Linked DNA regions of Homo sapiens: all the other regions are reported to be linked to region 2. The links are microRNA targets in miRTarBase. Many come from high-throughput screens and were not tested one by one. Region 2 holds a microRNA gene; each other region holds the end of a gene's coding sequence. Distances are from middle to middle.
The links. Region 2 holds the annotated microRNA hsa-miR-4310 (GCAGCAUUCAUGUCCC, at 3,327-3,342, shown strand). A microRNA usually pairs through its seed, bases 2 to 8, with sites in the 3' UTR of a target mRNA and lowers its output. Matches are read on the target gene's strand: a 7mer-m8 pairs with bases 2 to 8, a 7mer-A1 pairs with bases 2 to 7 and ends in A, and an 8mer does both.

Region 1 (5,073 bases), not on the chromosome of region 2:
AGTAGTCATTTGTATACCTGACAGTACTTAGACTATTTAAGGCCAATTAGAATAATTTCTCCTACAGGTCTTGGACTTGAGTCAGCTTGTAAGGAAACTTTCTTTCTTTCTATTTTTTTTTTGAGACAGAGTCGCTGTGATGCCCAGGCTGGAGTGCAGTGGCACAATCTCAGCTCACTGCAACCTCCGCCTCCCGGGTTCAAGTGATTCTCCTGCCTTAGCCTCCCAAGTAGCTGGGATTACAGGCATGCACCACCATGCTCAGCTAATTTGTGTATTTTTTGTAGAGACTGGGTTTCACCATGTTGGCCAGGCTGGTCTTGAACTCCTGACCTCAGGCGATGCTCCTGCCTCGGCCTCCCAAAGTGCTGGGATTACATGCGTGAGCCACCACGCCCAGCAAAATTTTCTTATAATCAAATTTACTCTTGAAAATCTCTTAAATCGCTCACGAAGTACAGTTCTAATAAAGCTGATTTTATCTTCAGGATTGGAATAACTTGCTGTTCTTTTGGCTGAGCTGCAGATGAACTGATAGGCTGGTATTTAAGAGCCATGTTATATAAAAAAACTATTCACATAGCATGAATGCATGTAATTGAATTATCCATATTATGTAACATTATAAAATATTTAATGTTTTCCATTAAAAGACCCTTACTGAGTACCTTCAACATGCCAGGCACTGTGCAAGGGTAGAACATTTGTCACACATTCCTTACCAATGCATCGATGTGGAAAAATAGGCTATTAGTTAACAGAATAGGAAAGCTACTTACTGAGATGAAACTGACATTTAAAGAGAAGATTGAGAAAAAAAGTATAGTGTTCTTCATGGAAAAAGCAGGTAGTTATGTGAACCACATGACTTCTGTATCTTGAGAAACAAGTTTCTGTAGAGTCATCTTCCAACCCTCTAATATTCAGTGATTTATGAAGACTTGGGTGATCATTGAAGGAATACTGGTTTACAGCAAATTCCAAGTATTTAATCCTGGAATTAATCATGTAAGAAACTCCAAATAATGCTATTTACTTAGCAAAATAAAAATAATTTTTACTAGGAAAATTTCAAAAATATCTTTAAGTGAACTGGTTAATAAATCCTTTTAAGACATGTACTTCTAAGGAAAGAAGTTATTCTAGAAAAACAAACTACTTATCTAGTCTTTCAGTGATCCTGAAAAATATTTTATGGGTTATCATAAAACAAGAATAACCCCAGCAGCCATCACAGTGGGATCTCCCGGATAGAGCAATAGTGGGCGATTACACCAAAGGAGTACCACATCCCTTTGCCATTCAACAGAGTTGAATTTTGCTAAAAATACAGATCACAGGAAGCCTTGATGAGGTAATTAACTCTCAATGCTTCACAGAGGCTGAAAAATGAAAAACGGTATTCCTACACCTGTCTTGAAGTCAGCCCTGGGTAGGGCAGGTTTATGGCAGATGGTGTGTGCAAAACCCATACAGCTTTTTTTTAGGTAGTGGTGGAGGTATTACCTTCTCTCCAAGTTGATTCCTCCATCACTGGTGCCAAACTACAGCAGTTTTGCTAAAAATGTGGCAATTCAATGTGCAGAAAAGATAACGTTGTGGGAAAGCCCTGACTCTTATAATCTTACTAACAGCTTTTTACTGTGTGACCCTGAACAACCATTAACCTCTATTTTCTTATCTGTAAGTCAACAATATATGGCCCATAATCTTAAGGGATAGGAAAAGGGTCAAATAAACTGAAACTTCAAAAAGCATTTTGTGAACTGTAAAACACAGTATATGTAAAAAGTCTAAAGGACGACAGAAACTTAGACAATTCAGAGAAAAATTCTACTGTGAACATTTTATTTTCACAAAACAAACTTTACAGATTTTACAATCTCCCAAATTTCACTTATTTAAAAATAGGAGAGACAAGGCAACCTAGACTCCAAGATTGCAGGCGTGAAAAAACTAGTACCAGATATTCAAGTTATATATGCAAACTGCATTTTATATACCATGAAAGTGAAATGTGACAAACACTCACTAGTTTCAAGTGTACCTTATAAGAAACACATGGACATACTTGGGTTTTTTAACCACATAGTCTCATATCAATAAACATCTAAGTATCTGACATGTATTTTTCCATTAAAGGTAGGCACAACTCTATGAATATCAAATTATATCAATCATTTGCTTTTTATAATCTTGACTGGAAACTGAAAAATAAGAGGAATGTAAAGTTAAGTAGCCGAAAATGCTACTTACTGCACAAAAGCACATCATGAAAAGGAATGCTAGAAGTAGTTCTCCTCAGGAATGGGTTTTTGAAAATTTAAAATATTATTTTATCAGAAAAGTTAAAGCCTTCAGTGGGAAAACCATGGTAAATGACATATTGACTCAATCTCTAAAGCCCTGGCAAATTATAGATTTTGTGCAATTAGTGACCAACATATACATTTAAGAGATAATACTGACTGTTGACCAGAACCTTCTGATGGTTCTGAAGCATCTGCTCTTTAGAGTTACTTCAGCTTTACATGTCTATGAAATTTAAGATTCCTCAATGGGATGTTATAGCTTATTCTGCACTAGATACAAGTAATATGTATAGATTTAGAACAAATGACTACTTTTCACCTTCCAGGAGCCTGTTTTTATTTATACAAAATTAGATTGGTTTTTCACCCACATGTATGCATAAGTGCTTCTCAAATTTACACCGTTCATATCTGAAATCCCACAATAAATGCAAATAAATGGATACTAGTTTATATATTTCATATTTTCATTCATCTTTTTTTTTTTTTTTTTTGAGACAGAGTCTCCGTTGCCCAGGCTGGAGTGCAGTGTCGTGATCTTGGCTCAACTGCAACCTCCACCTCTCAGGTTTAAGTGATTCTCATGCCTCAGCCTCCTAAGTAGCTGGGACTACAGGCACGCACCACCACGCTCGGCTAATTTTTGTATTTTTAGTAGAGACAGGTTTTCACCATGTTGGCCAGGCTGGTTTCAAACTCCTGGCCTCAAGTGATCCACCTGCCTCGGCCTCCCAAAGTGCTGGGATTACAGGCATGAGCCACCATGCCTGGCCTTTCATCCATCTTTAAACAAATTCAATGACCATCTAGAGACAGATGTGACCAAAGTGTTACAAATTTCTATGCATTTTCTATGAATTGCTCTGTGCAGTTCACACATGGGTTCATTCACCCCGCAGGCTGTGAACTTCCTTATCCTGTAGGCTGCAGGTACTTAGGTTTCAGCAACTACGCGACCCAAAAGACTAAAGGAGGACTTGTTTAAATTAGTCCCTCTCAAAAATTGTTTCCAATCTTATAACAAACAGATTTAATATGCTTGTGGGTTAAATTTTAAAGTAGTTATGAAGCCATTTACTCTAATATAAATGAATGAAATGTAATTAAGAACCATACTTAAACGAGTACTTAATTTTAATGAATGGTATTTTTCATTTATATACAAAGGAATAGCCAGCAGCATTTAAATATAGAAATAGTCCCATCTCTTCTCTATTCCCTTTTATAAAGTGCCATTTTAATTGGGTAGATTTACTACCCAGATTTTCAGTAACTACAGGATAGGTATCTAATTGTCAAGAAAAGCTTGGAAAATTAAGTTTAGCATTTTAAACATTTGTAAAACATTGCTACAAGTCATAGAGACTACCAATGTATTAAAATAAAAAGTGTACCTTACATAAGAATCATTAAGTTGGTTTAATAATTACTTCACAGAAACATGGGCTCATGAATACTTAGGCCAATTTGTGCTAATTATTTAAACCAGAAACAGTTTCTGTAGGTAATTCAGCTCTAAGCACCATTAAATAGGGTTATGCCAAATAGAACAATGGTTAAATAATCCTCAGAATAAACACCCCAGCAAATTCAAACTTTTAGAATAGTAACAAAAGTTAGTGAGAATCCGAAAGAGAGGCAACATTTTATTGAAAACTATCATAGGCTGCTAAGTGTTCTCTTTAAATAAAATTTTGTGTAGTTATTAATGTACCTTAACACTGGTGTACCTTAATAGTGGTGTTAGAGATAGGTGGAAACCATACTACAGAAGTGAATGTTGCCTGTTTCTTTTGTTCAGTGATTAAAACTGAAATTGCTTTTAAAAAAATAATTTAACTGCTACTTACAATACACATAAAATACCAAGAAGATTCCCATTTTATTCACATTATTCTCTAATTAGTATTTTTGCATTTCAACTTTGATCTGACCTTCAGTAGTACCTTAAAATGCAAATGCAATTAGTAAAAACGGGGCAGCCTGTCGTTTTCACACTTAGAAATACAATGTAGTTTCATTACAGTTTGCATTTTTTTGTTACTCTTGAAAGAGTAACCCCTTATAAAATCAGATACATAAAAACTGCATTATTCCTTACTTTGCAGGCATCCAGGAATGGTTAAAGCAAAGGAACTCTCATTCATTAATTCATTCATTCTGTTCCCCCAATTTAGATACATTTCTAGTCTCCAGAAACGGACTCCAGGGCAGGGAAGTGGAGGGCAGAGAAGAGGTACAGGTCAAGGTATGATGAATCTCTGAAAAAGACATCCACTTTTCCCAGAAGGCTAGCCTGAAGAGAACTCCGCCCCATCCATTCCGATCCCTCAAGTAAGAATGCATAATTTAGCTTGTCCTTCTGGTCTCACTTCCTTACAACACCTAGTATTCAATTTATTAAGACAAATAAACCTTTGCATTTTCTAAAAGAAGCAATTTTTACCCAAATACATTGGACTTTGGTCTCAATGTGAAGGGCGAGTGGCCTTTAACAGGTCGTTCCTCCCCCACTCCCTCCTCCCCCCTGCCCTCCAGCGGCTGCTCTGGGTCCCTGAAAGAGGGTGTGGTGTGGACGATCTGGGTTCTGAATCGGATTTTGTTGAGTCTGGGTTTTATACGTCCACTAGAGCTGCCCGAGGCTTTGCGCCCTGGATCCTTGGCTTTGCCTCCGACCCACCCCTCAGCCGAGTGGTGATGGTGGTGATGGTCCCCTCCATCTTCTAGGGCGTGTGAGAGTTTGTAGGTGATGAGATGCGAG
Region 2 (5,073 bases):
ACGGCGGTGAGGGCTCCTGCCCTTTGGGTGGTGTGTGTGTGCATGTGTGTGTGCTGCACCATGCATGGGCATGCACGCATGAGGCCCTCCAGCTCCGGAGGGAGAACAAGCATGGACTTGGGTGGGAGAGCACGAGCACACGGGATGTCAGTCTGGCTGGTCAGGGGCTGAGCACATGGGCATAGCAGTGACACCTTAGGGTCTGGGTCAGTGCCAGCAAGGTGAGTGGCAGGGCAGTCATGCAGGGTCCCAGACAGGGCTGGGAGTAAGAACTGCCCAGGAAAGCTCATAACTGGAGACCCAGATGTTAGACAGTGACCTCTGGATCAGTCAGTATCTATTTAATGTCTGTCTTCAGCTCCCTGCTGAAGCCACGGGTGGAGAGAGGAGGGCAATATAGAAGCTATGGAAAGTGGAACTGCTGCCCTCATGGAGCCCTGCTTCCTGGGGAGATGAGCCCGAAACCCAGAGAATCAGACTGGGACAGTAGGTCCTGGCCACGGGGTGTCCCCGGCATCCCACTGTCCTGGGACCTGGCAGACCAGGAGGCCCAAACTGACACTGCAAAAAGGCTTGAGTTTAGGGACCTAACTCTGCTGATTTGCTAGCAGTGTGAGCTTGAGCAAGGCACTTAACCCTGGGTTTGTCATGCACTTAGAGTTTACAAGACTCTTTCTGCCATTTACCCTTCCTTCCTCCATGCAATGAGACATTTGGACAAGGGCCTGAAGTCCCTCCAGCACCAATCTTGTATAGTTGTACACAAATCAGCAGAAGACTGTAAGGGTTAAATTAGTAATTCAGAGAACAAGGAGAGCAGTGCAATGTCAAATACCAGGGAAGGCTTTGCCAGGCAAATGCGGCCAAGGGGCCTTTGAAGAGCAGGTGAACTTTCTTTCCCCATCAAGCAGTCTTGATGGGGCTGATCTTGCTAGCCGCCAGTCCTCTCATGGCCTCATCCAGGTGAGCTCTGTAGAGATGGGAAGGCAGGAGGAACAAAGGGCAGAGATGTGTCGTGGTAAGGGTCTGGCTCATGTAGGGGGTTCGTGGTTCTGGGAGGATCGGGTTGGATGAGAACGGAGAAACCAAGTGACAAAGGGCCACATGTGCCTCACCCGAGGCCCTGACCCAGGTCGGCTCGGGCTGTGTGAGTGGACTCAGGTGGGCTGCAGTTGCCTCAGCACCTGGTTTCCTGCTGCCCAGCCCAGCCCTCACCCGGCTCTCCCTCCGTGTCCCCGGGATCAGGTGCGTGACTATGCCTCCTGGGCAGCCCGCGTGCGCCAGGACCTGCAGGTGGAGGAGAGTTCGCAAGAGCCTAGCAGTGGCCCGCTGAAGCTCAGTGCCCACCAGTGGCTCCGGGCGGAGCTGGAGGCCCGGGAGAAGCTGTGGCAGCAGGCCACCCAGCTGGGGCAGCAGGCACTTCTTGCTGCAGGGACACCCACCAAGGAGGTGGGCCCCCTCCCCTGGTGCCCCCACATACCCTAGCTGACCAAGCCTGTGCCTGGCCACCTGGTGCCCCGTCCTACTGTGCCATGCTGGCCTCTCCTCAGGAGCTTCCCTCAGGATCCAGTCCTCACCTCACCCACACCACCCTCCCCAGCTGAGGCTCCTCATGTGTCCATCCCCAGGTCCAGGAAGAGCTTCGAGCCCTGCAGGACCAGCGGGACCAGGTGTATCAGACCTGGGCACGGAAGCAAGAGAGGCTGCAGGCCGAGCAGCAGGAGCAGCTCTTCCTCAGAGAGTGCGGCCGCCTGGAGGAGATCCTCGCGGCCCAGGAGGCAGGTCCCCTCCCGCCCTCACACTCCGCTCAGCCTCCTGCTCCTCCTTTCTATTCTCCTCTCTGCTCAGTCCCTTTCCTCCTGCCTCTCTGGCTTTTTCTCTAATATGAGGCAGCTGTGCACAAGTCCTTCCAGGTGGCCATGGTGAAGTGCTGAGGCCCCTGAGCGTCCACTGACATCCCCAGCCCCTATCCCAGACTGAGCCCCGAGGAAGTTGGCCAGAGGCTGGTCATGCTCCCCACATGGTGCAGAGGTTGAGGTATCGCAGCCTCCCAACCTGGACTCCCACTCCTCACAGCTCCATGCCAAGCTCAGTGGGCACTCCTAAGGCCCTGCCATACCCAGAGTGCCCATGGGCACAGACTGCAGCTGGAGGGGCTGGCTGGCTGGAAGGCTTGGTGGCCTCTGACTTTTCTGTGGATCCAGGTCTCCCTGAAAACCAGTGCCTTGGGGAGCTCGGTGGAAGAGGTAGAGCAGTTGATTCGCAAGCACGAGGTCTTCCTGAAGGTTCTGACTGCCCAGGACAAGAAGGTAATGGAGTCAGGAGGCCTGGGCGTGGTCAGAGTGTGGTGGTTGGGAGAGAGTCCTGAAGGGGGTCACGGGGCGCTTGGTGTGTTCCTGGAGGCAGTGCTGATGAGCCTGCAAGGCTGGGGTCCTGGTTGGGGTTGACTGAGCAAGTTGTATGTGTGGCTCAAGAAGAGGGCCCAGGGGGAGATGGGCCACACTGCAGAGACCCACACGGGGCATTTGGCTCTGTCCACACCGTGTGGTCCTTGGGGAGCAGACTGGTCTGGCTTGTGGCTGGGAGGATCAGATACCCCTCAGCCATGTGGGGCTGAGGAAAGGGCTCCGGGGCCCTCAAAGAAAGGACTGTGAGCCCTGCAGGCCAGGCCCTGCCCCAGCCCAGGGTGGGAGAGCAGCAGCTGTGCCCCTGCCCCACAGGAGGCAGCCCTGCGTGAGCGGCTGAAGACGCTCCGGCGCCCCCGGGTGCGGGACCGGCTTCCCATCCTGCTGCAGCGCCGGATGAGAGTGAAGGAGCTGGCGGAGAGCCGGGGACACGCCCTGCATGCCTCCCTGCTGATGGCCAGCTTCACCCAGGCCGCAACCCAGGTCAGAGGGCACCCCCAGCCCAGGGCCTTCCACTGGAACCACACTCGACAGTTTTCAGCCGCCTTCACACCGCAACACTGTGAGGCGGAAACAGGTTCGGGGGTGGATGGCTTTCCCAGAGGCTGTGCTGGAGCCCAGAACATGGGATCTAAGCCCCTTTGTGTGGAGACCTCACCAGTGTCCCGAGCTCTAGCAGCGCCAGGGCAAGAGAGGTGGGGAAGGGAGCAGAGCAGCCCAGGGCCCCAGGAGTAGGGGCCACACCTCCAAAACGAGAGCCCACCCAAGGCCCTGCCCGGCTGCCTCCTGCAGCAACCTTCCGGAGCTGGAACCTTCAGGGCTCATTTACCAGGTGCTGCCCGCCCCACCCCTGAGGCCAGCCTCCTGGGAATGGCTGGGGGCTAGGCCTGTGGCGTCTGGGGCCTGAGGCTGCAGAACATTGCAGCATTCATGTCCCACCCCCACCAGGCTGAGGACTGGATCCAGGCGTGGGCCCAGCAGCTGAAGGAGCCGGTCCCTCCTGGGGACCTGAGAGATAAGCTGAAGCCCCTGCTGAAACACCAGGCCTTTGAGGCTGAAGTCCAGGCCCATGAGGAGGTCATGACCTCTGTTGCCAAGGTAACAACCGGGCCCTCAGCCCCATGCCTGCCCCAAAGTGTGGCCCAGGGGCAATGTCAGTCTTAGGAGGAAGTGCAGCAGGCAAGATGTCCTGTGTCCCCTCTCTCCCTCCAGAAGGGAGAGGCTCTCCTGGCACAGAGTCACCCTCGAGCCGGAGAGGTCTCCCAGCGGCTGCAGGGCCTGCGGAAGCACTGGGAGGACCTGAGGCAGGCAATGGCCCTCAGGGGCCAGGAGCTGGAGGACAGGCGGAACTTCCTGGAGTTCCTGCAGAGAGTGGACCTTGCAGAGGCCTGGATCCAGGAGAAGGTGTAGCCCCAGCTGGGTGGGGGCTGAGAGATGGGGGGAGGAGCCCTCCCTTGACAGGAGGGATCCCCAGCAGCAGGTGCCAGGAGCCTGGGCTGGTGCTCACAGCGCTCCCTCCCCACCCTCGGCCTTCACAGGAGGTGAAGATGAATGTTGGTGACCTGGGCCAGGACCTGGAGCACTGCCTGCAGCTCCGACGGCGGCTCCGCGAGTTCCGAGGAAACTCGGCCGGGGTAAGAGGGCCTTGCTGGGTAGAGGTTGGCCATGCATCCCGCACTGAAAATCCAACTGAGAGCAGGGAAAGAGTGTGGGCTGTAGAGCAGGGCGTGGGCGCCATGCCTGCTCCTCCTATGCCCTCGGGCAGGCTCCCTCCTCTCACCCGCCTTCACTCCTTCCTCTTTAGAATGGGGGTAGCACCCACCTCAGAGGTAAGAGAGCACGTGTGTGGTGGCAGGTACGTGAATCTCTAGCTGTGATAAAACTGCATAGACCTATCCCCCACTGCCCCGCACAGATGCATACTTGCAAAAACTAATAAAATCTGAATGAGGTCTGGTCTAGTTGGTAGTATTACACCAACGTCAGCTTTGTGGTTTTAATGTTATCATTATATAGGATGCTGCTGTAAGGGAAGCTGGGGAAGGGCACAGGGACCTCTCTGCAGGACTTTGGCAATTTCCTGGGCATCTATAATTATTTCAAAAAATCTTAAAAAGATAGGACATATGCCTGGATGTGGCAGATAATCAGCGCCCACCTTCAGTGTGACTATTTCAGCGTCTCAGCGTCTTCTCACCCCACACCCGCCCCCTCACACATACACACACCAAACATCTATTTCTCTTATGTGGTATACAGGGGAAAAAAATGGCAAATGTATTGACAATCAGGTGTTAAAGACCAAATGTGCTAACCTTGTCCCCCGGTACATGTATGTATTACTTTTTAAGAGGCGGCAGTGCTTAAACCTAAGACATCCCTTGTTAATGGTGGAATTTCACAGACGCTGTGCCAGATGCTGCAGTAGGAAGAGAGCTAGACTCCAAAGGAGCTGGGCTTGAATCCTGGCTCTGCCGCAAAGGAGCCAGGTTAGCCTCTGAGCTCTGCTCCGGCATCTATAAAAGGAGGGGAATGTCCTTCCCTGCCTACCTTGCAAATGAGGCACTTCATAGGAAAGTGCTTTGGAAATTTAAACAAGCTCTACAGAAGCCAGAGGCAGGAGATCTGCAATCACACCCTGCGGTGGACCCCCTCCCTGCGTACCTTT
Region 3 (5,073 bases), not on the chromosome of region 2:
GAAACCCTATAGATGTGATGATTGCGGAAAGCACTTCCGCTGGACTTCAGACCTTGTCAGACATCAGAGGACACATACTGGAGAAAAACCCTTCTTTTGTACTATTTGTGGCAAAAGCTTCAGCCAGAAATCTGTGTTAACAACACACCAAAGAATCCACCTGGGAGGCAAACCCTACTTGTGTGGAGAGTGTGGTGAGGACTTCAGTGAACACAGGCGGTACCTGGCGCACCGGAAGACGCACGCTGCTGAGGAACTCTACCTCTGCAGCGAGTGCGGGCGCTGCTTCACCCACAGCGCAGCGTTCGCCAAGCACTTGAGAGGACACGCCTCAGTGAGGCCCTGCCGATGCAACGAATGTGGGAAGAGCTTCAGTCGCAGGGACCACCTCGTCAGGCATCAGAGAACACACACTGGGGAGAAACCATTCACGTGCCCTACCTGTGGAAAAAGCTTCAGCAGAGGATATCACTTAATTAGGCATCAGAGGACCCACTCAGAAAAGACCTCCTAGCTAGGTCCCCATGTGAGGAGATCTGCTTTCAGCCCTCACCTAAGGGAGGTGAGGAAGAGGAAAAGCCCTCTTGTCAGCCTGGGAAGACCTTTTCGAGGGAGTCTCCCTGACCTGCTCAGATCTGACATTACCTCTTCCTGCAACTAAACACGAGCCTGGGCAGAACCTCTCAGCCTTCCTCTACGCCTTGAGGGGATGTTTCATCCAAAGTACAACCTGAATTGAGGCTTCTCCTTCACTGGAGTGCACCTGCCTCTACCTCATGGGTATAAAGTAGGAGAACTAAGAGACTTAAGAGGTCGTGGTTCCTATATCGTCCAAAAAATAGGCTGTTACATATCCTAAAGACTGCTCAACAGCTTCAAGTTGAAAGTGGCCAAGGACAGCCCCTTAGGTTTGGGAAGGGACGAGCCTGAAGGATTCTGTCTTTACTGGGGTCAAATCTTAAAGCACACAGCTCTGGACTCAAGACAGGAGGTTTGCGTCCTGATGGCTTTGCCACACATTCACAGGATAACTGCATAGATCCCTCGCTGTCTGATTCACTTCTTACCATGCACTTTCCTTTGATGCTGAGGAGAAATGGAAGTGGGCGAAAAATCTCAAGGCTGCTTCATGTGGACCTTGTCAAGCTGCTCCCTCCCCCAGCGTCAAATTGTTATCAGGTGCCAAACACTGCTAGAAAGGAGGGCCTAGTCAGAAGCCTCTTTCCATACGAGTTTTGGTTTTGTTTTTAATATTTTTTTCTATTAAAATACTCATGCATTTAACCTTCCCGTTATTCAACCAGTCTCTTGGTTGCATCCCTAGCACTTCTACTACAAGTGAGATGGTAGTGTTTGAGTGCTTATTGAGTAAAGCATAATTCGGTCATAATGAAATCGTTCACATTCCCTCATATGCACAAGCCCACCAACCCCTTCACACCCCCCTTCACAGGGGTCGTATGAGTAAGGGGATTTGGAAACTGTCAACTTACAAAGGCACTATAACAATTACAGAATCATGATTGCCATGGGCCACTTTATTTACATGAAGACAACTGGAGAACGACTAAGACCAAATTATGGAAAATAAGAAAAAGCTGTTGCTGGCAAGACCATCAAGACTGTTCTGACACCCTGTCCCCATCATCCCTGACTGAGTACTCTGACATCACGGAAAGTGTTGAACCTGGGACCCTGAGGAATTCACCAGGAGTAAATGGCTTTCATGTATTTGTGTTGTTTGCTTTTTCTTACGTGATTTTATGTTCATAGAGCTAGAAAGTAGCATCTCATGATGGCCCAACAATCTCTGTTGCCAGTTAAAGGTTCCTTGGAGATGAGGCTGAATAATTATGAACCTCACCTTCTCTGATTGTGGGAGTGGCAAGAACTGGGGAGACGTCCTCCATAAGTGGAGCACAGGGTATGGGGTTAAAGCATGACAGGGAGAGTCTTCTGTGCCTGGTTTCTTCTCCTCTATCTCATAATGCATTATGGGCCCGAGGAATAGGGGAGGGTTAATAAGACTCCAACCCTAATGGCCCAACAGGGAAATTCTCATTTTGGTCGATGATATTCTGATGGACTGGTTTGGTCTTAATACCAGTCAACCGTTGTCCTTCTGGAAATATACATATATGAAATAAATAAAGGTAACACTTGCAGCCAAGTTCCCTGGTTTCTGGGACTTCCCATCTTACCCATTCCTTTTCCAGGGCTTCAGTGTCCTGATACTTCTGAGGGTGGTTCATACTCAAATAGATCTGGGAGTACAGAGTATTTTTCCTTGAGGAAAGGAAGGGTTGGGATGATTAGCAGAGTCCGGTGAAACATATGCACTCTGAGATAAGATCCAAGCCTGGAGTTTGCAGAAGATACTGTCCTAATAAGCAGGCATTTCTAAACCAAGTATCTAAGCCTAAGCACAGCTTGTCCTGGGTGAAATGTCTGCCACAAAAGATAGTTTCTCCTAGCTCAGACTTAACCATTTATAAAGGTTGGTAAAATACTGGCAGTGACAACAAATTGACTTTTTAATTTTCTTATTTGCATTATTCCAATAAATGAAAATCTGTCAGAGTTCTACATGAGGGAAAGCTTGTGAGGCTGGGCCGGTTTGTTGGAACATCAAATAGTCCTTAATTACTGATCTCCCTGCAGAGTTTCATATGCTGACACTAAATCTCTGGTCCCTTTTGTAAATTACTGAATTTTCTGAGGTTCTGGGAGGGACATGTTGTCTCCCAAATCTGAACAAACACAACCACAGTGTGCAGCGGCAGGAAAGAAGTAGTGCAGCTGAGCGTGAGCAGGGAGGTTGGAGCACAGGGTGTGTATTCGGAGGGGTCCCCTCTAGTATCTTGTGAGCAGTAGAATTCTAGCATCCTTGAATACCATACTAAGTTTCTGAGGGAGAAAACGGTGGGATTTTAAAGATATTATTTGGAGGAAGTTAATACGCTACTTAATTAACAGAAGTGGCAGGTGGTTGGAAATGTGCTAAAGAGGTATGACACATTAAAAATGATAATATAAGGATGTTTGACCAGATAATTTAGGAATAACCAAGGAATATTTAACCTCTTCACCACAAAGTCCGAGGAGAAATAAATGCCCAAGAGATCAAGCCAAAATACATTTTTATTATCTGGGACTTAGGCCTCATATTCCGGAGCAGAATCCGGTAAACTCAGATGAACTCCATGGAGAATTTCATAAATCAGATTAACATCAAGGTACTAAAATCAAAACCCACTAAGAAACCTGTTGCCCCCTTCAAAGCACAACTGAAGTAATGGATCTAATAGAAGATACATTGTTTGCACTGAGCAGTAGAGTAGTAGAGGAGAAAAGCCCAGAGATGGCACAGACAAGTTGTTCCAGTCCCCTTCAGTCAAGGCCTCTGGACCACCACCCTGCCACAGGCGAAAAATGGGATATTTAATAAATAAAAAATTTTGATTCACCAGACTGGCTGAAAGGACAGTAATCCAAATGAGAGTTAACGGCTCCATAGTAGTTTTCTAGAATGAAAGCTGAACTGAGAAATAGTAACTGATGACATGTTGAGCAGGTTAATAATTTGGTACCCTTCCACACCAGTATTTGTTTGTTTGTTTGTTTTGAGATGGAGTCTCGCTCTGTCGCCCAGGCTGGAGTGCAGTGGCGTGATCTCGGCTCACTGCAAGCTCCGCCTCCCGGGTTCACGCCATTCTCCTGCCTCAGCCTCCCCAGGAAGCTGGGACTACAGGCACCCACCACCACGCCCGGCTGATTTTCTGTAATTTTGGTAGAGACGGGGTTTCACCATGTTAGCCAGGATGGTCTCGATCTCCTGACCTTGTGATCCGCCTGCCTTGGCCTCCCAAAGTGCTGGGATTGCAAGCGTGAGCCACCGCACCTGGCCCCACACCAGTATTTTTAAAAATAGTTTGTTTTACCTCTAGCGTCTTCCCTCAGCTGACCTAAATAGTCCAGCCACAATAGCTGAGAGAAATATACCTACAATTATTTCCATCTCCTTATATTTCTAGTGATGTTGGCTGACTAACCCACTAATCTAGTTTATGGGAGAGGGAAAGACTGAAAGAGCCACAAAGTGGATGGCCAACCCACGTGATTACTAACCTTTATTGTGGCAAAGTAACTGATACAATGTTTCAAATGTAAGCACATCTCCTTGGAATAAGTGGAATAACTTAATTCATCCTTGCGGAAGTCCTGAGGATCAAGCAAGGAGGAGCCCAGCTTTCTTTAGACACCACCTTTTTTATCTTTAATAACAAAAAGGAACAAAGTGATTGTCAGACCAGCACAAAGATACCTCTTAATGTGCAATTTCTATTCTCTTTAGTGTGTGTGAGTGCACGCATGCACGTGTGTACACCGAGGTTTCAGGTAGAAGGAGGAATGCAATTCAAATTCTAAAAAAGGAATCAGTCAGCACAAACTAGTTTATTTGGCAATTCATAAAGATAGGGACTCTTCAGAGGAGGTTGAGAGCATTGTAGGGTTATGTAAAGACTTCCAGAAGCTGTAAAGACTTCCAGAAGCAAGAAGATTCAACCATCTAAAACGCCATGCAGGAAAATAGCCAAACCTTCTCCATTTAAGTAGAGAATAAATCTTAGTAGCGTTCTCTGCAGAATATAACAACGCTGCAAAAAGGCCATTTCACAGGAATATAATCAAAACTGCAGATTCTCAGGGTTTCCCGTAAGACGACTTCTCTGCTCTTCTGTTTGTGGTTTCTTTTTTAGTTGTACATCTCTCCTAGACAAGTCCAAGGAACTACTAACGAGAAGATTTCAGGAAGAGGCCTACAGCAATTGCTTGGTGCTTGGGTTCATTTGCGGAATCTTGGCAACAGGTCTACAGAGAAGCAGTTCCACGGCAAAAGAGCTGTGGGGCAGTTGAATAATCCATCCAAACAATGAGGAGTAAACCCTGAGTCAAGAAACCAGCAAAAAGCAGAAGACTGGGTCAGCAAATAAAGGGAGAAGATCCTTGCCTCCTTCAGTGCCCCTAGCATGATATTCTGAAAGGCCCTCCACTAAAATACAACTACAGTTT
Region 4 (5,072 bases), not on the chromosome of region 2:
TCCGCTCGCCTCGGCGTCCCAAAGTGCTGGGATTACAGGCGTGAGCCACTGCGCCCAGCCCTTTTATTTTTTTGAGGCGGAGTTTTGCTCTTGTTGCCCAGGCTGGAGTGCAATGGCGTGCTCTCGGCTCACCACAACCTCCACCTCTCAGGTTCAAGTGATTCTCCTGCCTCAGCCTCCCGAGTAGCTGGTCCGGCTAATTTTGTATTTTTTAGTAGAGATGGGGTTTCTCCACGTTAGTCAGGCTGGTTTCGAACTCCTGACCTCAGGTGATCCGCCTGCCTTGGCCTCCCAAAGAGCTGAGATTACAGGTGTGAGCCACCGCGCCCGGCCAAATCTCCACTTTAATAATCCCAATGTCTTCCCACTGTTCTCAGGTCCCAGGAGTGAGGACTGCACCCTGCAATCCCTACATTGTGATGCCTCAGTGTCCACTCCTGCCCTTTCCTTTCTCCACTACCAGTTAACAACTGCTGTGGTCTCAATTGGACCCTGACGGATGCACCCACGCATCCTGTTCACTAAGCTGTATGAGTCCATTTTGTCTCCCTACCTGAAAGTGCTGTCTGGAAGGGACTAACACCTTCTGAGTTTCCCATGCCCCGCCTGATGCTGAAGTGATCAATACTTGTTTGTTGGTTGTCACCAAACGTTCCTCACTCATCCTCTTCCTTGTACCTAGTCACTCACTCTCTTCCAGAAAGACTTGTCCCTTAAAAACCATCTCACGGCCGGGGATGGTGGCTCATGCCTGTAACCCCAGCACTTTGGGGGGCTGAGGCGGGAGGATCACCTGAGGTCGGAGTTCGAGACCAGCCTGGCCAACACAGCAAAATACTGTCTCTACTAAAAATACAAAAATTAGCCAGGCGCGCAGGCAGGCGCCTGTAATCCCAGCTACTCAGGAAGCCGAGGGAGAATTGCTTGAACATGGGAGGCAGAGGTTGCAGTGAGCCGAGATTGCACCACTACACTCTAGCCTGGGTGACAGAGCGAGACTCCATCTCGGGGAAAAAAAAAAAAAAAAAAAATCTCACACTCCTCCCCTTGTCTCTTTCCAGCTCTCTGGTGGGCAGCCCATCCGTCCCACCTTCTGTTTCTCTGCATTCTCTGGGTCTTTTCAGATTCAGTAAAATGAAAGGGAGGAGGGAGAAGGCCCAACACCCCCTTTGGTGGTTTCAGTAGCAGGAGAAAAGGACTTAGTCAGCTGTCCTGGTAGGAAAGGTAGTTAAGTCATCTCCTGAAACCCATGTGAGAACCATCGACAGGAAGTGACAGTGGGAACCAGGAGACTGCAGTAATGGAAAACACACCACAGTTCTTGAGATTCAGAAGTTTCATATCTTTATTCACACAAAAAAAGTCACAGCATTTCAGACTATTCAAACACACAAACAGGAACAGAGGGTGCCCACCAGTGACAGCCTCGTCCCTAAGTCTGGATCAAAGGCCACGCTGGAGGGTGGGGTGTCCTCTCGGGCCTCCTCTCTCAGCATCCCGTGGCTCCCTGCTCCCAGCCTCACTGACATCCCCAAGAGCAGTTACAACTGTGCAGAAACAAAGTCACTTTAGAGGAGGCTGGGCCCCACCTCATTGCCATGGAAAAAGGCCAGATTCTGAGGAAAAGACAGAATCAGTGCTACTGTGTCATCAGTTGGGGGATGCTGGGCACTCCTGGGCCTGGCTGGCATCACCTGCGTCCCAGACCTGGGGCAGAGAAAAAGGCAGGACCCTCCCCACTTGGCAGTACTGGGCAGCAGAGAGTGTGGGTCACTGGTCACGTGACAGCCCCAAACTGCCACGCAGACCTCTCTGATGTGATCAGCCAGACACTCAGAGGGCACAACGCTTTCAAGCAAGAACACCAGCCTGGTTCCTAAAGGGGGTGGGTGAACAACGCTCCCAGAAATCTTAAGAACCCAGAGTCCTGGAGCGCTGGAACAATACAGGTGTCATTGGGTTGCAGCGAGGAGGGAAACTTGGTGAACACCAGCCCTCCGAGAGGGCGGAAATACCACTCCTGTCTATTTCCCAGAGCACGTGCCTGTGCCTTGGGGCTCAAGAGCAGTCTTTTCATGGCGGCAACTATGGAATCTAAGAGGAATGAAGGAAACGGCGCCCTCAGGAGGTGCTCAACATTGGTGTCTGACCCCCAGGCCTCCTTGCTGAACCTGGTGAGAAAGCTGGGGTTGGTCTAGGAGCTCCAGCCCACGCTGATCAGGCATGCCCCAGGAAAGCAGACAGGGACAAGCGCCTCAACGAGACTGGGCACAAGGCCGCAAACCAAGCTGCTTTTCCTCTGTCAGTCTGATGTTACTCATTGGACCTGGCCAAGGAGCGCCTCTTCCAAAGTCCTCCATCCTACCCGGCTCAGAGCAGTCCTTCCCGTGATCACTACTTTCCTTGGCTACATCTAACTTTTTTTTTCTCTGAAAGATACGACTGGATGGATGCCTGTGACTCTTGAAGGGGTGGCTGCTTTTACTGAGGACGGCAGTTCATCTAACACTTTACAGCTGTAAAATGTGGCGCATAGGTGTGTAGACGTTGATGTGTCAGCAGAAACCCCTGTATACCGGGTTCTATGCTATGCTACAGATACAGAGAAACAAGGAGACTGAGGGTCCTAGGGAAAAGTTATGCCATCTGGGCATGGTCAGGTCAGAAGCTCAAAAGACATTTGGCACAGTCTGCAGTCATTTCCAGAAACTACTACCCAGACGTACCTTGGCAAGCAGGTGAGCTGTGGAGCACACAGGACATCACTTCTGAAGGTGCCCAGGAGCACCTGGCTCGAGGAGGCTTTCATAGAAGGAGAAGTCCCCAGAGCCCCTTCCCTTTCTCTGTGCCATCTGCCATACTACTGAAAGTTATTCGGGGCAGACAGGGTCCCCTGGCTCTACCGCATTCCATGACTGCTCAGCGAGACCCACATGCTCGGAGAGAAAGTGTGGACACAAACTCTGTGGATGCAGCCCGAAAGAGGGTGCTGCCGCATCCGGATCCTCGCCAGCATGGCACTCCAGAAAAGAAAGTAATGGCGGGGGTCAGGGGGGTGGTCAGAGACACAGGGGGTCCCCAGACTGCCTAGCACATACATACATACCACTGGGGACAGTACAGAGGGGAGCAGGTCCGCCAAGGTTAGAAACCAAGAGACACAAATATTGCACATTCAGTCAAGGCATTTCCAAGAGAGTCACAGAAATAACTCTCTCTGAGACACAACATAACACATTTGGCAACTTTCAAAGAAACAGCCTTCCCCACTCCAAGCCATCAAAGGGTCCATAAGTGCCTTCATCTTTGGTCCAGTTGAAAAAGCCAGGGAAGGAAGACAGGGTCAATGGGGAGTAAGAAGAGGCTGCAGGTGCAGTTCCTACAGCTCCCACTTGTCTGACTCAGTGCAGGATGCCGCCTGTCTCAAACCTCTTCTTGGAGGGAAAACAAGCTCTCCAGAGGGTCCCGGCTGCTGGAGAAAGGTGAGGCAAAGCTGCATGTGGTGGCAGCCGGGAGCCCCAAATCCAGAGCAATGATCACCAACCTCCAACCACAACAAAGGACACCCCATCCTCCCTTTCCTTGGAGGCTCTATTCATGGGAATGCGGGGTACTCTGGCAACTCTATGCTTTACCTAAAACCTCAATTCGACAAACTGCAGCTAGAACCCTTTGCATCTGCTGCACGTCTTGGAGGGTGCATAGGAGGGACGGTGTTCCGAAGCAGCTGCTAACGTCCATTGTGGCACACATAGGGTGAAACCATGGCACGGCACGGGAACAATCCTCTTGGCTCCAGCGTCCTTAAAGTACAGGCCATTTCCAAGGAGCTAGGCCTTCCGCCCTCATCCCCCAGATCCCCGAAAGGCTCCGACTGGGAACCCAGCCCAGCTGCTGTTGTAAAGATCTGTTCTAATACTGGCTAAGCAAATGAAAGCAGGTTTCTGAAAAGGTATTCTGCAGCCAGAAGTCGCACTGTCTTCGGAGTCCTGCAGGTGGGGAGGGAGTTCCTTTAGTTTTGACCAGAACACTTCTTCACAGGGGGCCAGGATCAGCTGTGCTTTGCAGTGGCTCGGTCACTGGACAGGAGTGAGGTTTCACTTCACAGAGGGGCTCTGCTGACTGCTCTCCTGAAGGTCTGGAGTTTTCGGGGTCTTAGTTTACATCCGCGATCCTCTCTCCTGAAGAATCTGAAAGTTGGAGATGGGGGAGAGGCTGAGGCTGCTGAGGGAAAGACAGAGATGTCGGGGGATGCTTTCCACTGGACCCGATGAGTGGCATGATGGTCCTGTCATCCCAGGAAGCAAGCAGGGGTGCAGCCGCAGCCTCACCCGCAGTGCTTCTGGTGCGAAACACTCTCTTGCTGGGCACAGCTGGGTCTAAAGCTTATATGCTGTTGGACCAAAGCTTTGCCAACTGAAAGGAAGTGGTTCCAGCTTACCTGGTATCCACGATTTAGAAGCTGTGTGTGTGTGTGTGTGTGTGTGTGTGTGTGTGTGTGTGTGTGTTGGGGGTGAGGGGGGTGCACAGTGGAGGGAAAAGAAACAGTTTTCCAGGAACTTAAGGGAGGTAAAGGTCACCAAGGTAAGAAAACACCCTTTTCTCCTGAGGCAGTGAAAAAAGCACAGTTTTAAAGAATAAATCAAAATACCTTCCAAGTCTGAGTTCAGAAATCCTACCCTGTAGTAATTAGTGGCAACCAGCTTTTCTTTTTCATTGATTTGGCAGAGGATGGAGAAAGTCTACCCTTTTTAGGTTCATATTTTCTAACTAAAAACACCTGTCAGTGCTCCGTAAATCCCAATTAAATTACAACAGTCAAAAATAACAAAACGAGGGGAAAATGCAACGCTGGCTCTAGAAGGCCAGGGAAGAAGTGAGGAGCAAGAGTTCAGGAAAAGCCCACGGAGGGGGTGCGAACAAGCAAGCCAGAGGCAACTGCCCAGGGAAGGGGCTCCTTACCTTCGCCTTTTCGCTCGGCTCTATGACGATGCCATTGGTAGAATTATTTAGTTCTCTGGAGACAACACAGAGGAATTCTGCCTGATCCTCATTGCCGTAGTTATAGGAAG
Region 5 (5,059 bases), not on the chromosome of region 2:
TAGAGAAGGGGTTTCACCTTGTTAGCCAGGATGGTCTCCATCTCCTGACCTCATGATCTGCCCGCTTCGGCCTCCCAAAGTGCTGGGATTACAGGCGTGAGCCACCGCGCCTGGCAATTTTTGTATTTTTAATAGAGACGGGGTTTCACCATGTTGGCTAGGATGGTCTCCATCTCCTGACCTTGGGATTTGCCCGCCTCGGCCTCCCAGAGTGTTGGGATTACAGGTGTGAGCCACCGCGCTCGGCCGAGCTTATTCTTAAAATACAGTAAAAACTTTAAGCTCTCTTTTAAGGTTCTTGTGGCTTGTTGCAGGAGATAGAAGAAAGGTGAGAAGCAGGCAGTAAATGGAAGCAGAAAGAGACACAAAGTTGTGACCACTAGGTTGTGACATGTTTGGGTTTTTTCACTTGAGCTGTATACTTCTTTGGTATTTCACGCCCTAGCCTGGTCCTTAGATTATGTCTTCTCAGGTCTTCTCCCAGTGCACACAGCAACAACAGACTGACCTGAACACCTCCGCCCACACACACCAAGCCTGGGCAAGGGGAAGGTAAAACTACCCACTTTGGGCCTACATGCAGTGAGGCCTTTCAGATACTGATAAAACATTGTTGCCCCCTCATGTGGCCAATGCTGGAAATACAGCTGAGACACGTATTCCAGGGCAGTGTAGCAGCCTCAGCAACTGGGAATTTGTTAGAAATGCATATCTCGGGATCCATCCTGACCTACTAAATCAGAATTTTGCTGGACCCTACCCCCAATCTGTCTGTTTTTTCTTTTTGTTTTGTTTTTGTTTTTTGAGATGGAGATGGAGTCTGGCTCTGTCACCCAAGCTGAAGTGCAGTGGTGTGATCTCTGCTCACTGCAACCTCCACTTCCCGGGTTCAAGTGATTCTCCTGCTTTAGTCTCCCAAGTAGCTGGGATTACAGGCGCGAGCCACCATGCCTGACTAATTTTTGTATTTTTAGTAGAGATGGGATTTCACCATGTTGGCCAGGCTGGTCACAAACTCCTCACCTCAGGTGATCCATCCGCCTTGGCCTCTCAAAGTGCTGGGATTACAGGCATAAGCCACTGCATCCAACCCAAATTTGTTTTTTTTTTTCTTTCTTTTTTTTTTTTTTTTTTTTGAGACCAAGTTTCGCTCTTGTTACCCAGACTGGAGTGCAATGGTGCGATCTCGGCTCACCACGACCTCCACCTCCCGGGTTCAAGCAATTCTCCTGCCTCGGCCTCCCGAGTAGCTGGGATTACAGGCATGCGCCACCACGCCCGGCTAATTTTTGTATTTTTAGTGGAGACGGGGGTTCTCCATGTTGGTCAGGCTGGTCTCGAACTCCTGACCTCCTGATCTACCCGCCTTGGCCTCCCAAAGTGCTGGGTTTACAGGTATGAGCCACTGCACCCGGCCCCAGATTTGTTTTCTAATAAGCTCTTCAGATGATCCTGATGAATGCTAACAGACTTGAAAACCGCCATTCTCAACCCACATGTTAAAACATGTTAATATCTTCAACTGCCCCATATCTGCCACACACACTCCCCCCAGAGTGATGTATCCTTTCTTTTTTTTTTCAGATGGAGTTTCACTCTTGTTGCCCAGGCTGGAGTGCAGTGGTGCAGTCTGCAACCTCTGCCTCCTGGGTTCAAGCGATTCTCCTGCCTTCCGAGTAGCTGGGATAACAGGCGCCAGTAACCACACCCAGCTAATTTTTGTATTTTTAGTAGAGATGGGGTTTCTTCATGTTGGCCAGGCTGGTCTCGAACTTCTGACCTCAGGTGATCCAACTGCTTCGGCCTCCCAAGGTGCTGGGATTACAGGCGTGAGCCACCACGCCCAGCTTTAATTTCTGGTTTAAGAGTGGAGGCCAGGCGCGGAAATGGGGAAATGGAGTTTCCCTATGTTGCTTAGGGTAGTTTTGAACTCCTGGGTTCAAGTGATCGTCCCATGTGGGCCTCCCAAAGTGCTGGGATTACAGGCGTGAGCCAACATGCCCAGCTTTAATTTCTGGTTTAAGAAGAGTGGAGGCCAGGCGCGGAAATGGGGAAATGGAGCTTCCCTATGTTGCTTAGGGTAGTTTTGAACTCCTGGGTTCAAGTGATCCTCCCATGTTGGCGTCCCAAAGTGCTCGGATTACTGGCTTGAGCCACCATGCCTGGCCAGAGCCACTTTGGGAAGAGCAGTCTATACTTACCCTTTGTTTTTTTGTGACGGAATTTTGCCCTGTCACTCAGGCTGGAGTGCAGTGGCATGATCTCGGCCCACTGCAACCTGCACCTCCTGGGTTTAAGGGATTCTCCCGCCTCAGCCTCCGGAGTAGCTGGGTTATAGGCACCCAGCTAATGTTTGTATTTTTAGTAGAGACGGGGTTTTGTCATGTTGGCCAGGCTGGTCTCCAACTCCTGACCTCAGGTGATCCACCCACCTCGCCTTCCCAAAGTGATGGGATTACAGGCATGACCCAATATGCCTGGCTTTTTTTTTTTTTTTTTTTTTTTGAGACAGGGTCTTGCTCTGTTGCTCCGGCTGGATTGCAGTGGTACAATCATAGCTGTGAGTTTGAACTCCCAGGCTCAAGTGATCCTCTCGCCTCAGCCTCCCAGGTAGCTGGAACTAAAGGCATGTGCCACCATGCCTAATATTTTTTGTATTTTTTGTACAGACCTGGTCTCCCTATGTTGCTCAGGCTGGTCTCAAACTCCTGGGCTCAAGTAGTCTTCCCACCTCGGCCTCCCAAAAGTGCTGGGATTACAGACATGAGCCACTGATACCCAACACTAACCTGGCTAAGGTCACCCAGGCTGTAGAGAGGTAGAGCTGGGACAATGGCCTTTATCTGACTCCAGCATCCTCAGGATTTCCTCCCTTATCTGTAGAATGTGGATAAGATGACCAAGAACACATCCTAGAGGGCACGATAGCCAGGATAGGACTGTTCTAGGAACACACACGAGGCGTGTTAAAGAAGACTCAGAAAGATGAAAACCAGGAAAGAGCCCTGTGGCCGAGATCTACTCTGTATCCTAGAGTATTTTATGTACTTTTTGAAGCATTTTTTCACCAGTACTTAATAGCAACTGTTAGATCAAGCATTAGCTCCAGAGGAGTAAAAATCAGATTCCACAGATTTGTACTAATGTATCTAACACAGGTGGTAATGGCTTTTAAAAAAAAAAAAATGAAAAACAGTCCAGGCCGGGCGCGGTGGCTCACGCCTGTAATCCCAGCGCTTTGGGAGGCCGTGGCGGGCAGATCACGAGGTCAGGAGTTCCAGACCAGCCTGGCCAACATGGTGAAACCAAGTCTCTACTAAAAATACAAAAAAATTAGCCAGGCATGGTGGCAGGTGCCTGGAATCCCAGCTACTCAGAAGACTGAGGCAGAAGAATCCCTTGAACCCAGGAGGCAGAGATTGCAGTAAGCCAAGACTGCACCACTGCATTCTAGCCCAGGCAACGGAGCGAGACTCCGTCTCAAAAAAGTCCAAACACACTAGGGGTTAAATAAGCTGCTTCTCTTTCCACTGTTTATTATTAATGTACAAAATATACAAAACCAAAAAAAAAAATACTCATCCTCAAATCCATTTTGGCTCTAACCCAAGACCCTGCACAAAACCCAACCAATCCACTGTTTTCATAGAAAACAACTGATGCCAAAGTGAAGGAGAGAACTGGGAAAGGGCAAAATCATCTTGTTGAATCCACCCAGGAAGGCGCCTGGTGGGGATTCAGAGGTGGTTGACAGGGTGAAGTACCTGGAAGCCTCCTTCACGCTGGCAAGGTTCCAGGTGGGAGCAGGGAGTGAGCTGACTCCCAAAGGCAGTGCATGTAGTGTGACTTTCAGGCCCAGCACGCCGGGCCCAAGTTGATGAGAAGCTGGTCTCACTGAAGTATTTTATCAAGTCTCCAGACTGGCTATAGTTGGCAAAGGCAGACCAGCACCACCGGTCTCACCTCTGCCAGCTAAAACTTGCACCGGATGCAGATACGAGTTCGCCATCATCGAACCTAGCAGACCCAGGACGCAGACTGGGTGTTCACAGAAAGTTGAAGGTCCCACTTGAGAAAGGACTAAGAATGGTGAGCCCACGCTGGGGGAGGGGTGGGGATGATGTGTGTTCCAGAACTCAAATCCAGCTGATTGAGCCCTCTCAGTGCAGTGGGATATACAATACCCCTTTCAGCATCTCCCCACCCCATGAGGAATAATGAACTTAGCTGGGATGATTTCTTAAGTGCAGCTGATCCTGTGTCAGAGTTCTGTGTGCATGTGGGGACCCGCAATAGAAGGGTAGGGGTGTTCGCCAGGATAACCAGCTTTAGGTTCTCAAGCATTAAGGGTAATACTGGAAAGGGGTTTGGGGTACAGGGCGAATCTTCTCAAAAAGTGAAGCCAACTGGGTCTCCTCTTCAGCAGTCCAGGAACGTTTCCAGTCTCTCTCCTCCCCAGACTGGAGGAAAATATGTACATCAATGCGCACCAGTGATCAGAAAACCCCCAGGAACCCAAGCAAGTGGGAACTGAGGGGGCCGGCTCCTCATCAGCTGGGGAAAAGGGAAAATGGGCCTCACAGAAGCCATAACAGGGTGGAAAGAGCGAGGCTGCAGTCCACAGGGGTTGTGTGAACAGGGCAGGCAAATGGTCCCTAGGGCAGGGGGGGCCCATTGACACCCGGGTGGTAGAAGGCACAGTTGTTCTCATAGCGGCAGTTGCCCTTCATCATGAAATGTCGGCAGACAGGGCGGTTTGACATGTCTGTGGGAACGATGGCAAAACAGTTAGACAGGAAATAGCTGAGGGCAATGCCACCCTCACCACCCCTTGTCCATGACATCCTGAGAACTGTCTTTCAGAGACAATCTTGGGGATTTGGGGGAAGGGCATAGAGTAGGAACTGCTATGCATACTAGGACATCAAAGAGACGGGTACCTCACGTTCTGCCTAGCTACCAACAGTAGTGACTCTCACCCACTCCCCAAAAGCTTGTATGGGACAACCAAAAGGCATATGGGGGACAGGGAGCATCCTCACCTCCTCCATGGCTGTGG
Region 6 (5,073 bases), 41 Mb from region 2:
ATACCATTTTTGTACAATTGAATAGATTTCACTTTAATTTGGAACTATTCTATTGGTTATATAGTCTGCCTATGTCTCTGTAAAGTGTACCTAGTATAATACTGGAAGAATGATTTCAATCTTAGGAAAGTTTTGAATAACTGGCACTATAACATTCTATTGTGAAAAATGTTTTTTAGTCTTATTTATTGTGTATTAGAATGAGAAACCAGAAGCACTGCTATGGGTTTGTCATATGTTTTTTTTAACAAGGGAAGTTTAAAGATCTTTTTTGTTTTATTGTTGTAGGTTGCAAGACAACAGACAGTTCAGAGGCAGGGACAACAGATGGGGGTGGCCAAGTGACAATCGATCCAATCAGTGGCATGGACGATCCTGGGGTAACAACTACCCGCAACACAGACAAGAACCTTACTATCCCCAGCAATATGGACATTATGGTTACAACCAGCGGCCTCCTTACGGTTACTACTGATAGAAATGTTGGCAGCTTTTAGTAAAAGCATTTACTCTGTTACCATGAGAAAAGTTTGGGTGTCTTCTGTTGGTCATAGTTTTACATCTGATTTTACAGAATGGATTATTGATTTTTTGGAAGTTGAGACTTTAAAAAAAATAGATCTTACTTGCGAAATGCGATGGTTGCTGGGAATACCTGAAACTGTGGATTATATTGCTTGACTTCTACCTCAGAATCTTCTTTGTTTCATGACTTAATAGTGCTTTAAGTTTGGTATATTATTTGACCTCTAGGAATTCTTTGTTTTACACAGAAATAAAAATTTTAAAATAGAAAATGCTTTTACTTTGTAAGGTAAGAGAGTATCCATATGCTTAGATGTGCTCGTTTCTAAAATTCTAGAGGTTGATATAATCAGCTCATGAATGCACAGCTATGCTTTTTGTGATAGATTGTACATAACATCAGCAGTTGAAAGGTAAAACAATTGCTTTTTTTTTTTTTTGCATTTGTTAAGTGACTATGGTACTTTGTGATTCCTTAATCTATAGATGAGTCAGCTCCACACTTGAGTCTCTTTTTAGAGGGAAATCAGTAATAAAGCTGTAAAATAAGGAAGGAATCATTGTCAGTTTGTGTCTTGATCTGGTGGTGGTTGGGATAAGGGTACACATCATTTTATACAAACACTAAAGCTTTTTGCTAACAACATAGCAGGTCAAAATTCACACATAAGAAAGTTTAACTCTGTACTGTTCACACTTTTTAATCCTGTAAATAATGCTGCATTTTGATGGTTCTTACTTTTTTGGTATTTAATGTGGGCTGATTTTACAATGTTATATTCACTTCCAGATGCATACCTCTGCTGCTTTCTCTCCTATAAATAGTGATGCTATAAACTTCCTTTCACAGAGATCATTCTATTTCAAATCACTTTAATGATTATTACAATGATTTCATTCAAATAAAAATTTTAAAATATTTAAGCATCTTCACTCCCAAGTTCTGGCAGTTAGCCCATTTATTAATATGGTGAAATGAGATTTTTGGGTTTTTTTATGCTGTCCTTCATATCTGTTGAAAAGGGCTTATTTGGTTTAACAGTAACATTAAGAGTGCAAATTTCAACATAGGTCAAAGGAATTAACAGGCACCTTCCTGACTTTATTAGAGTGACAAAAAAATATATATATTTAAAAAGGCGTCTTCCAGCCAGGCATGGTGGCTCATGCCTGTAGTCCCAGCACTTTGGGAGGCTGTGGGCGGATCACTTGGGGTCAGGAGTTCGAGACCAGCCTGACCAACATGATGAGACCCCGTCTCTACTAAAAATACAAAAATTAGCCGGGTGTGGTGGCACATGCCTGTAATCCCAGCTACTCGGGAGGCTGAGGCAGGACAATTGTTTGAAGCCCAGAGGCGGAAGTTGCAGTGAGCCAAGATCGTGCCACTGCACTCCAGCCTGGGCAACAGAGCAAGACTTCATCTCATAAAAAAAACGGGGGCATCTTCGTAAACCTATTTTTAATGCCTTCTCTCTTAGCACCCCACTCTAGGCCCTCGAGGTTGACTTCTCCAGGTACTTCATGCTCTCCATCTACCTCTCCCTTTTATTCTCCCTTCCTGAAGAGCCATCCTCTCGGGTAACTGTTTTATTGGAAATGACCTAATAAGTCGGGCAGTCACACTAAGATGCAAATACAATTTTAATAGTAAGGGTTTTCCCTGTAACCTCCCTAATTACATCAGTAGGCAAGAAGCCAGTGCTGTTATATAAAGATAGGATTTGATACTACAGATATTTAGTCTAGATAGTAATGTCCTGACTACACCCCAGAATCTTCTCTGAAAGCAGAAGTGTTATCAAAAATATCACCTGGTTGGGTATGGTGGCTCACACCTGTTATCCCAGCACTCTGGGAGGCCGAGGCGGGAAGATCACTTGAAGCCAGGAGTTCGAGGCCAGCCTGGGCAATGTAGCAAGATCCTGTCTCTACAGAAAATTTTAAAATTAGCTGGGTGTGGTGGTGCACGCCTGTAGTCCTAGCTACTCAGGAGGCTGAGGCAGGAGGCTCCCTTGAGTCCGGGAAGAGTTCAAGACTACAGTGAGCTAGGATCATGGCACTGTACTCCAGTTTGGGCTAGATAGATGCTGTCTCTTAAAAGTAATGATTTATAGGCTGGGCACGGTGGCTCACAGTTGTAATCGCAGCACTTTGGGGGGCTGAGATGGGCAGATCACCCCAGGTGAGGAGTTCGAGACCAGCCTGGCCAATATGGTGAAATCCTGTCTCTATTAAAAATACGAAAATTAGCCAGGCATGGTGGCGGATGCCTGTAATCCCAGTTACTCGGGAGACTGAGTTAAGAGAATCACTTGAACCTGGGAGGTGGAGGTGGCAGTGACCTGAGACCATGCCATTGCACTCCAGCCTGGGCAACAAGAGCGAAACTCTCTCAAAGAAAAAAAAAAAGATTTATAAAATCATCTCCTGAGAAAGCACAGGCACTGACCAGTAGTTGGGACAGTATAGCTGACTGTAGCTTTAGGTCAGGATTCTGTGCTGTGCCAGCTGTTGACACAAAGGGAGATGTATGGGTCCAAGGCCAGCGCTGGAGGAGTACTTCTCAGGAAGCTCAGAAGAGAGGTGGTTTTCCAACAGTATTTAAATGTTTTAACACCCAACACAGCTAGGCTGCTTGTGTCCTGAGTATCAGCCGTGCTTGAAAAAATGGGAGGAAACCTTTTAACATGAGTAAATTCTGCATGCTGCATGAATAATCTATGTTGTTATGGTTTTTGTTTTTTAACAGCAGTTACTATCAGACTGTACCCCTGCCCCTGATCTGCTTAAAACCAGGAAGAAATAAAAGGTACAGTTTCTGCTTCATAAGACAGAAAATAACATGAAAAAAAGCTTAAAGATAATTTAAGAGTGAGAGCAAATAAAATAGTGTCAAATAGAATTAATTTCAAGTAGTCTGTTGTAATAACATATGGCATTAGGTATAAGGAATCCTAGCTTCCAGTTCTGTGCTTAAAACATATGTGACCGTGAGAAAATCATGTAAACACTGAGCTTATTGGCTCAGCTGTAAAAATGGGGACAATACCCACCCTGCCACCCTCACAGAATTATAAAAATAAATAATCAAAGGAAGAACTTGAGAATATAGAGTTGTGACCATTAAATCCCTAGTAGGACACAATAGGTGCTGCATAAACATTTGTTGAATCAACGGGAGGGAAGTATTTGGTAAATTGTAAAGCGTAGTGTTGACATAAAGGATGTAGAGTAACGGGCAGAAGATGAGGTAGGGCAGAAGACGTTGAGAATTAAGGATTTGTGATTGTTTCCTTATGTTAATTCATATGTGAATTAGCAAAGGAAAGCAAGTTATCTCATTCAGAAAATAAACACTTCAAATGTGGAAGATGGTTTGTATAAAAGTTGAGCTAAAATTAGTAGCATTTGGCCAGGCTCAGTGGCTCATGCTAGTAATCTCAGCACTTTGGGTGGCCAAGGAGGTGGACCATCTGAGGTCAGGAGTTCGAGACCAGCCTAGCCAACATGGCAAAAACCCCGTCTCTATGAAAAATACAAAAATTAGCCAAGCATGGTGGTGCAGTCCCAGCTACTAGGGAGGCTGAGGCTGGAGAATCGCTTGAACCTGGGAGGTGGAGGTTACAGTGAGCCGAGATTGTGCCACTGCACTCCAGCCTAAGTGACAGGGCAAGACTCCATCTCAAAAATAAATAAATACATAAATTAAAATAAAATTACTAACATTTGCCATTTGGAAATTAGTAGTGAATTTAGAATGTCAAATGTTAATTACTGAACACATCAGATTAATGTCCTTTTGAGAACAGGATGCTGGGGACTTTTAGAGTTTTTTGTTTGTGTTTTGTTTTTGAGTGCTAGGTGGACTTGGGGTTATACAGAATGTAATAAACTTGAGTCACTGCTCTGAGAATAGTTTTGGGGTTCTTGAAACCACATAGGAAAAAGACATCTGGGGAGATTTCTAGCATGGTTTTTGTTTCCAAAGCCACTTTCCTTATAATGCTCAACAGACAAATAGGTAATTATCCCTTGTATTTTATTCACCTAAAGAAAAATGTAGGACTTTATAATAGAATTAAGGGTAATAAAATGTCAGCTTTAAGTTTAGAATGTTAAAATTGAAGGAAATAATCATTTACCCTGAATCAGGTTATTGACAGCACTAATTTTGAACTCTCATAAAAGAACTCTACTTGTTTCCTAAATATAATGTTTTTTAAAAATTTTATTTATTTTAAACAAGTTCAAGCCAAACCGAAATACAATTTTTTATACCTTAAAAATTTCCCTAGACTTCCTATTTCATTTGATTCATTCAATCCAAACACAGATCTGGCTGTGTATGGAAAACTATGCCGTAGACTGTTGACTTCTTCTAATTAGCACAATAATCTACAGTGAAAAGGATTTTTTTTAAATTAGGCAATATAGGAAATAAATACTCCCAGTTTAAGGTGGCCTCTATTATTATTGGACTTTAGTTAGCTGGAAATGTTAGTTGTGAAAGTACTTACTTTGTAATGTCAGACAAATTAGATATTA

Region 1: the mRNA of SOWAHC is a reported target of hsa-miR-4310. Seed matches in the 3' UTR shown: 7mer-m8 at 3,490-3,496.
Region 3: miRTarBase lists ZNF202 as a target of hsa-miR-4310. Seed matches in the 3' UTR shown: 7mer-A1 at 1,084-1,090.
Region 4: miRTarBase lists KCTD2 as a target of hsa-miR-4310. Seed matches in the 3' UTR shown: 7mer-A1 at 1,490-1,496 and 7mer-m8 at 1,367-1,373.
Region 5: the mRNA of PPP1R10 is a reported target of hsa-miR-4310. Seed matches in the 3' UTR shown: 7mer-A1 at 4,190-4,196.
Region 6: miRTarBase lists RAMAC as a target of hsa-miR-4310. Seed matches in the 3' UTR shown: 7mer-m8 at 1,240-1,246.

Annotation. Positions count from the first base shown.
Region 1 is chr2:109,615,749-109,620,821 of GRCh38, reverse strand. SOWAHC (sosondowah ankyrin repeat domain family member C) reads right to left here. Exons shown (of 1, transcript NM_023016.4): 1 at 1,832-5,073. The coding sequence ends at 4,755. It also overlaps a transcript of RANBP2 not described here. Among named protein-coding and RNA genes, the nearest start is that of SOWAHC, 3.9 kb to the right of the region's middle.
Region 2 is chr15:41,864,774-41,869,846 of GRCh38, reverse strand. MIR4310 (microRNA 4310) reads left to right here and starts at 3,296; the gene lies at 3,296-3,352. It overlaps SPTBN5 (spectrin beta, non-erythrocytic 5), which reads left to right. Exons shown (of 68, transcript NM_016642.4): 32 at 1-6; 33 at 1,246-1,449; 34 at 1,629-1,778; 35 at 2,205-2,309; 36 at 2,721-2,888; 37 at 3,354-3,503; 38 at 3,618-3,809; 39 at 3,944-4,039. RefSeq lists a silencer at 1-93.
Region 3 is chr11:123,721,438-123,726,510 of GRCh38, reverse strand. It overlaps ZNF202 (zinc finger protein 202), which reads left to right. Exons shown (of 9, transcript NM_003455.4): 9 at 1-2,597. The coding sequence ends at 514. Among named protein-coding and RNA genes, the nearest start is that of ZNF202, 18 kb to the left of the region's middle.
Region 4 is chr17:75,062,136-75,067,207 of GRCh38, reverse strand. KCTD2 (potassium channel tetramerization domain containing 2) reads right to left here. Exons shown (of 6, transcript NM_015353.3): 5 at 4,963-5,072; 6 at 1,322-4,190. The coding sequence ends at 4,161. Among named protein-coding and RNA genes, the nearest start is that of KCTD2, 17 kb to the right of the region's middle.
Region 5 is chr6:30,596,894-30,601,952 of GRCh38, forward strand. It overlaps PPP1R10 (protein phosphatase 1 regulatory subunit 10), which reads right to left. Exons shown (of 20, transcript NM_002714.4): 19 at 5,043-5,059; 20 at 3,520-4,765. The coding sequence ends at 4,656. Among named protein-coding and RNA genes, the nearest start is that of MIR877, 15 kb to the left of the region's middle.
Region 6 is chr15:82,989,593-82,994,665 of GRCh38, forward strand. RAMAC (RNA guanine-7 methyltransferase activating subunit) reads left to right here. Exons shown (of 4, transcript NM_031452.4): 4 at 289-1,465. The coding sequence ends at 475. It also overlaps a transcript of C15orf40 not described here. Among named protein-coding and RNA genes, the nearest start is that of RAMAC, 5.9 kb to the left of the region's middle.